Homo sapiens: one gene and its partner. The protein of the gene in region 1 interacts with the protein of each later gene in a pairwise test. Each region holds a gene or a part of one and is shown in the gene's direction. Other genes may lie near its edges.

Evidence for each region. The genes of interacting proteins can lie anywhere in the genome.
Region 2: the proteins of E2F3 (region 1) and SPIB interact in a two-hybrid assay, tested with the Homo sapiens proteins (one study listed by BioGRID).

Annotation. Positions count from the first base shown.
Region 1 is NC_000006.12:20,404,727-20,408,480, forward strand, and holds part of E2F3 (transcription factor E2F3), read left to right. Parts: intron 1-3,754.
Region 2 is NC_000019.10:50,421,902-50,425,655, forward strand, and holds part of SPIB (transcription factor Spi-B), read left to right. Parts: intron 1-571; coding exon 572-644; intron 645-921; coding exon 922-1,136; intron 1,137-1,703; coding exon 1,704-1,854; intron 1,855-3,754. UniProt on the Homo sapiens protein: Sequence specific transcriptional activator which binds to the PU-box, a purine-rich DNA sequence (5'-GAGGAA-3') that can act as a lymphoid-specific enhancer.

The DNA of each region.
Region 1 (3,754 bases):
TTTTTAGTGACTAGGGTCTGCCAGCAGGGGGGAAACGGAGCACAGTACCTGCTTAGACATAGCAGTATCCGGTGTGCTGGGTTTTCAGTCGCAAGAATATTCCATGCTTTTATTAGCTTCAGATACTCTTACTGACTTGACCTAAGCATGTTTGGACATATTTTAAGCATATTTGACCCCTGCACAGTTCTGTTACTATTTCATAAACCTAACCTTAAACAACCAGCTATTGACATACTTCTTGGATTAGATTCACAGATTTGCAGGGGGTAGTTTTGATAATGGGAAATTATGAGAGCTTCAAGTTGATTTTTAAAAAATTTTAACAGTGTTTGTTGGGCCAGGTCCCTAAGACTATCTTTCAAGCCAGGTTTATTATATCTAGTTCATTGTATTTAAGTATTTAAAGTATACTAAATTACCCTCACCATCTTCCAAGTTATTTCAAAACTTTATTCTCCTTGACATGAAATTATTATTCCAGGAATAATAATATCCTTTTGAGTTTATGTGCACACAAAAGGTTTTTCATTACAGGAATATAAATGTTACTCATATACATATTCAGAAGCATTTTTTATATGATTGCAATGTATGCTGAATCATTGGTTATCTGCATTTTTTTTTTTTTTTTTTTTGAGACGGAGTCTCATTCTGTCGCCCAGGCTGGAGTGCAATGGCACGATCTCGGCTCACTGCAACCTCCGCCTCCCGAGTTCAAGCATTCTCCTGCCTCAGCCTCCTGAGTAGCTGAGATTACAGGCGTGAGCCACCACGCCTGGCCGGTTATCTACACTTTTAAGAGCTATTTCTACTGGCCGGGCGCTGTGGCTCATGCCTGTAATCCCGGTACTTTGGGAAGCCGAGGGGGGCGGATCACGCGGTCAAGAGATCCAGACCATCCTGGCCAACATGGTGAAACCCCGTCTCTACTAAAAATACAAAAATTAGCTGGGTGTGGTGGTGCGCGCCTGTAATCCCAGCTACTCAGGAGGCTGAGGCAGGAAAATCGCTTGACCCTGGGAAGCGGAGGTTGCAGTGAGCTGAGATCCCGCCACTGCACTCTAGCCTGGCGGCAGAGCGAGATTCCGTCTCAAAAAAGGAGCTGTTTCTTCTGGGAGGGTGTAGGAAATTTATCTAGTCAATGCATACAAAGTCTTAAGCACTGAATATAAAGTTTGATTTATTGTTTTTCTTATCGAAATTATATTAGACTTCCATGTAAGTCTTCGAATTTTGAATTTTGTTGATATTCTTTCCCTAAGCAGGAAAGACAGGATGGGGAAAGCTAAGTGATTGGCTGAACAAAGACCACCTAAACACTCTGTGTCCAAGAAGAGGTTGAAAAGTCTTCAGGTGGCCAGAGTTGCAGACCTATCTGGTTCTGATCCCAAGTTCTGTCTCAAGAATATCTAAGGACTTAACCAGAAGCAACTTCTTCACCTTTTTTTCAATGGGGGTAAAAATATGAGTACTACCTTACCAGCTGTAAAGCATCTATTATTTACAAATTGTATGTTCATTGGCAAATAACTTAATCTCTCAACTCAGTTTCTTCCTCTGTAACATAGGGACAAAAACAGTGTCACCTTTAAGGTTCTTTTGAAGAGTTAAATATGATAATGCATGTGAACTATTTAGCACAGTGCCTGGCAAAAAGTAGACACCCAGTACAATTCATATTTATTATACAAATGTTAATTTTTTTCTGACTTAGTGAAATAGTGTAAGGCCAGGTGCACATTGTCCCTTTGTTTACATATATGAAGAGAACTGTTAAAAGTCTTTAAGTGATCTGTAATTAATTATTTATGCCCAATTAATTTGGGCTTTTAAATATATAAAACATGGCCATCCTAGGGGTAAAATAGGGACATTTCAGTAAGACACGCCTATATAGAGATAGTGGTGTTGAACTGCCAAGCATATGCCTTGAATTGTGACAATTCAAGGCCACATCATCCTCACTTTTTTGCCTGAGTTCCACTCCGTCCATGATTCCACAGACCTGCCAACTTTTGGGTGCAGTTTATGCTTAGCGGCTTTTGTTAGACCTGAACTCTCAATCTTCACCATGTCAGAGACATGCATTAGACAAATTCCATCTTAGTTGGTGAACTGTTGGAAATGTAAGAACTCCAGAGAAACCATAGTCAGAAGTGCTACTCAATGGAGCAGACAAGGCTTCATCATTTTCTGCTGCTGCTTCTAAAAAGAAGCTGAAATTATTTTATTCTAGAAAATTTGGGATTTAATAATGTAAGAGACTATGTCCTGTCACAGTCATAGCAACCTACTGATTCTACTTTGGGAAAGAGCCCTCAGTGCTTGAAATTTTCATCTAAGAATGGAGAACCATAGGTGCTATTTCAGCAGGGTCTCTTTTCCTGTACAATTATAAAAAGAAAAGTGCCGGGTTCCTGTGGTTCTATACTCAATAATCTTGCTTCTGCTGAGATATATGGTTGATGCCAAGTTTAAGCTGGGAGACAATTTTTAGTCACTACATACCCCAAAATGGAAGTTTTAATATAATGCAGTGCCCAGACTTGGGCACTACAGGTAGCTCCACTATAATCAGTACCAAGGGCGCCACTCTAATCATCCTCTGAAACAAAGCACCCTTAAATATGGCACTGTGGGCTGAAGAACTCCACCTTGTGAACAGGAAAGGATTTTTTGTTTTTCTATAAATCGCCACCTTGTGTATTACTTGGAAGAATGGATTCTGAGATTAATGTTATACTGTGTAAAGCTAACTTGAAAACAGAAAATAATACTCTAAGCCTAGACGTGCATAAATAACATTACCTGGAGATTGACAGACGGGGTGAAAGCTTTTATTGTGGTTTCTCAGAAATATATAAAGCAGTAGTTTTCCTTTAACTCTTCTGTCTTTAATGCCATCTGCAAAGATATATCATCCATACCTTTAACCTCTTTCCTAGGGATTTGGACCCATTTGGCAAATAGCTTCAAGTACTCATAGTTAATTTTCTGGCTGGTTTTCCTAAGTTAACCTGATTTTACAAATATTCCATTTGTAGGACCAGTTTACATCTACTTTCCCAAGCTAGCCAACTTCAATTCCCTTTTAGTCATCTACTTCCTACTAACAGCTGTAACTAGGATGAGTCAAAATCAATTGCCTATGCTCACCAGATCCCTGATAAATTCCCATGAAGCCACCTGAAAGGTGGTAAAAGCAAGGTAAAACGTGGTGAAAGCAAGGTAAAGAAGGTAGATTTCACAATTTTGTTTTTTAAAAAGGGGAATCTTCCCTGAATTCTTTGAGGTACTAAGTACGTGGTTTAATGCATATTTTCATTCTTGTTAGCAGTTTAAAAATAATGTTTCAGAGACTGTATTCACGATTGCTAAAAAGCATTTTTTCTACTAATCATTGTTCATGGGACTTAACAATGGAAGATAACTGGGAAAGCAGTAAATATAGGAAACCACTAATAGTGTCTCCTTCTTCCTACCCTGACCCTCTCTTTGGCTTCAGAAAGTGACGAGGAAAATGTATCTTTCACAAAGAAAAGTTATACCACAGAAGGTACTAAAAAGCAACAACTGCCTTTGGGGACAGGAAACTTACAGAGTGGGGATTATTATAGAGGGATAACATACCGAGTTTCTATTTCAATAAGAGGGAAATTGGTTTATATTCTGTTCACACTTGTTTCAAACCCTCTCCTCTAAAAGCAATGTGTTTTTGGAATTCAAGGAATGTACGTTCTTTCCCCAACCT
Region 2 (3,754 bases), on another chromosome or scaffold:
ACCACGCCTAGCTAATTTTTGTATTTTTAGTAGAGACGGGATTTCACCATGTTGGCTAGACTGGTCTTGAACTCCTGACCTCAGGTGATCTGCCCGCCTCGGCCCCCCAAAGTGTTGGGATGACAGGCGTGAGCCACCACGCCTGGCCTGGAGGTGTATTTAAAAAGCATTGACCCCTGCCTCTGTTAAGTGAAACACTTCCATTTCCCCTTGCCCTTCACCTCCGGAGCCCCCAGGCAGGCAAGGCTGGGGGAGTTCTTCCACCCCTTCTCCAGGCGCCCTGATTCGCTGACTGTGTGCCAGTGAGGGGCCAGGGTTCTTGGGAGCCCACCGTCTTAGCAGGAGCTGGCTGCTGTGTGCCCCTATTGGGTTGTGTCTCTACTCTCTGTATCTCTGTCTCTTTGTCCCTGTCTCTGATGCCTAGTCTCTGTGTTTCTTTGTTGCTCTAATCTCTCCAGCATCCCCTCTTCTCTCCCATGTCTGTGTTGGAGTCTCCCCAAGGGTCCAGGGTGGGGGTTGGGAGTCCCCAAGGCCTGGGATGACCCCTCTTCCCTCCTGCACCCCGTATCAGTACCCAGATGGCGTCTTCTATGACCTGGACAGCTGCAAGCATTCCAGCTACCCTGATTCAGAGGGGGCTCCTGGTGAGTGACCCCAGCCCTGTGCCCTTCCTGCCTTGGGGCCCATTTCACAGATAGGGGAGCTGAGGCCCAGGGGAGGTCATTTCCTAGCACAACAGGATAAAGGTGGCCCGGGCCTATAGCCCTCCTCCCCTTTCCTCTCCTACCCATCCGCTCCTCCATGCAAATCCTGGGGTCAGAGATTTGCACAGCCTACAATGGCCTCTCTGTGCTGGGGGCTTCGACTGCGAGGAGGCCTCCGTGAGACATCCCAGCTTCTGACTCAGTGCCCTTCCCCCAGACTCCCTGTGGGACTGGACTGTGGCCCCACCTGTCCCAGCCACCCCCTATGAAGCCTTCGACCCGGCAGCAGCCGCTTTTAGCCACCCCCAGGCTGCCCAGCTCTGCTACGAACCCCCCACCTACAGCCCTGCAGGGAACCTCGAACTGGCCCCCAGCCTGGAGGCCCCGGGGCCTGGCCTCCCTGCATACCCCACGGAGAACTTCGCTAGCCAGGTGAGTGGTAAGGGGACAGTTAAAATCAAGCCCAAACCAGGTGTGGTGGTGCACGCCTGTAATCCCAGCTGCTTGAGAGGCTGAGGTGGGAGGAGGATTGCTTGAGCCCAGAAGGTCGAGGCAATCCACTGCACTCCAGTCTGGGCAACAGAGCAAGACCCTGTCTCAAAAAAAAAAAAAAAAAAGAAAAAGAAAAGAAAACTCAAGCTCAGTCATTTGGTTGAGGTTTGCTGGGTGCCGGGCACTGCATTGAGACTGCACATAGTAAGCCCTGCAGCGGCCTCCCAGGTTACGTTCCGTTGTTGCCCCTCTGAACAAGTGAGTCAAGAGAGGTAGTGACAGGAAGCCAGGGACAGGGCAGACTCGCATTACCTGTGTTGGGCCGGCTTTGAGGAGGTACCTCAGGTGTCCCCTGGCCACAGCGTGGTGATCTGAACAAAGGCCAAAATCTAGGCTGTCAACAAAGAGGGAGACCAGAGCCAGGAGGGCCACCGCCTTGGCCTGAGAGGAGGAAGTGGAGGGAGACAAGGGGTCCCTGGACATGCAGGTGACCCTGACCTTCCGCAGACCCTGGTTCCCCCGGCATATGCCCCGTACCCCAGCCCTGTGCTATCAGAGGAGGAAGACTTACCGTTGGACAGCCCTGCCCTGGAGGTCTCGGACAGCGAGTCGGATGAGGCCCTCGTGGCTGGCCCCGAGGGGAAGGGATCCGAGGCAGGTATGCGGGAGTGGCTGGGGTGGGGGAGATGCCAGCTGGAGATGGTGGGGGGGCTGAGAGCACCATGGCTTCCTGGGCCTCTACATATACTCCAGCACTCTGGGCAGCTCCCAGATCCGCACCACCTGCTGGCTGTGTGACCTTGGGTAAGTGCCTCTACCTCTCTGTGCCCAGGTTTCCTGTCTGTGCGATGGGGATGGAGGTGATAGTGTCTACCCTCCTGAGGTCGTTGGGGGGACTAAATGGGATAGTAAGTGTAAATGGGACAGCAGTGCCAGGCACAGAGTGAGCACTTCAATAAGTCAACCTCTTCACCATCATTCCCGACACCACAGCAACAGAAATGATAATGCTATCAACCCCCAACGGTTCAACCCTTGCCCCCTGCCCGTGTGCCCAACATCCTTTATGCTCAACCCCAAGAAAGCTGAGATCGTTCCTTCCTTTCTGTGTCTGGGCCTCGGTTTCTCGTCTGTAAAGTGGGCATCACTGTCATCCTCCCCATCTCACGGGGTTATGATGGAGATTCAATGAGCTCATAACTGTAAAGTGCCTTGTGAAGCACCTGGCACTACATGCTCCACGGTGCATTGTAAAAATCAACACACAGGCTGGGTGTGGTGGCTCACGCCTGTAATCCCAGCACTTTGGGAGGCTGAGGCGGTCAGATCAACTGAGGTCAGGAGTTCGAGACCAGCCTGGCCAACATGGCAAAACCCCGTCTCTACTAAAAACACAAAAATTAGGCTGGGCATGGTGGCTCATGCCTTTAATCCCAGCACTTTGAGAGGCTGAGGAGGATGGATCACGAGGTCAAGAGATCGAGACCATCCTGGCCAACATGGTGAAACCTCACATTTACTAAAAATACAAAAATTAGCTAGGCGTGGTGGTGTGCACCTGTAGTCCCAGCTACTCGGGAGGCTGAGGCAGAAGAATCGCTTGAACCCAGGAGGCAGAGGTTGCAGTAAGCCGAGATCTTGCCACTGCAGTCCAGCCTGGCGACAGAGTAAGACTCTGTCTTAAAAAAAAAGAAAAAAGAAAGAAAAAAAAATTAATGGGGCATGGTGGTACATGCCTGTAATCCCAGCTACTCAGGAGGCTGAGGCAGGAGAGTTGCTGGAACCCAGGAGGCAAAGGTTGCAGTGAGCTGAGATTGCACCACTGGACTCCAGCCTGGGTGACAGAGCAAGACTCCGTCTCAAAAACAAACAAACAAAACCACAGCCTCATTTAAAAAATTTTAATTAATTAATTAATTTATTTTTTGAGACAGAGTCTCGCTCTGTTACCCAGGCTGGAGTGCAGTGGCACGATCTCGGCCCACTGCAACCTCCACCTTCTGGGTTCAAGCAATCCTCCTGCCTCAGCCTCCGCAGTAGCTGGGATCACAGGCACCCACACCATACCCAGCTATTTTTTGTATTTTTAGTAGAGATGGGGTTTCACCATCTGGCCAGGCTGGTCTCAAACTCCTGACCTCAGGTGATCCGCCCGTCTCGGCCTCACAAAGTGCTGGGATTACAGGCGTGAGCCACTGTGCCCAGCCACACAGCCTCATTTGTGGCTGAGAGACTTCAGCTCAGAGAGGTTAATTAAGTCACCTATTTTAACTTAGGACATTTAAGATGGAGAGGATCTCTCCAATGACTAGGAAAGACACAAGATGGAAATAAAGATTTTATTTATTTTTATTCATTTATTTGAGACGGTCTCCATCTGTCACCCAGGCTGAAGCGCAGTGGCGCAATCTCGGCTCACTACTGCCTCAAACTCCTGGGCTCAATCGATCCTCCTGCCTCAGCCTCCTGAGTAGCTAGGACCACAGGCGTACACCACCACACCTGACTAATTTTTAAAATTTTTGTAGAGGTGAGGTCTCGCTATGTTGCCCAGGCTG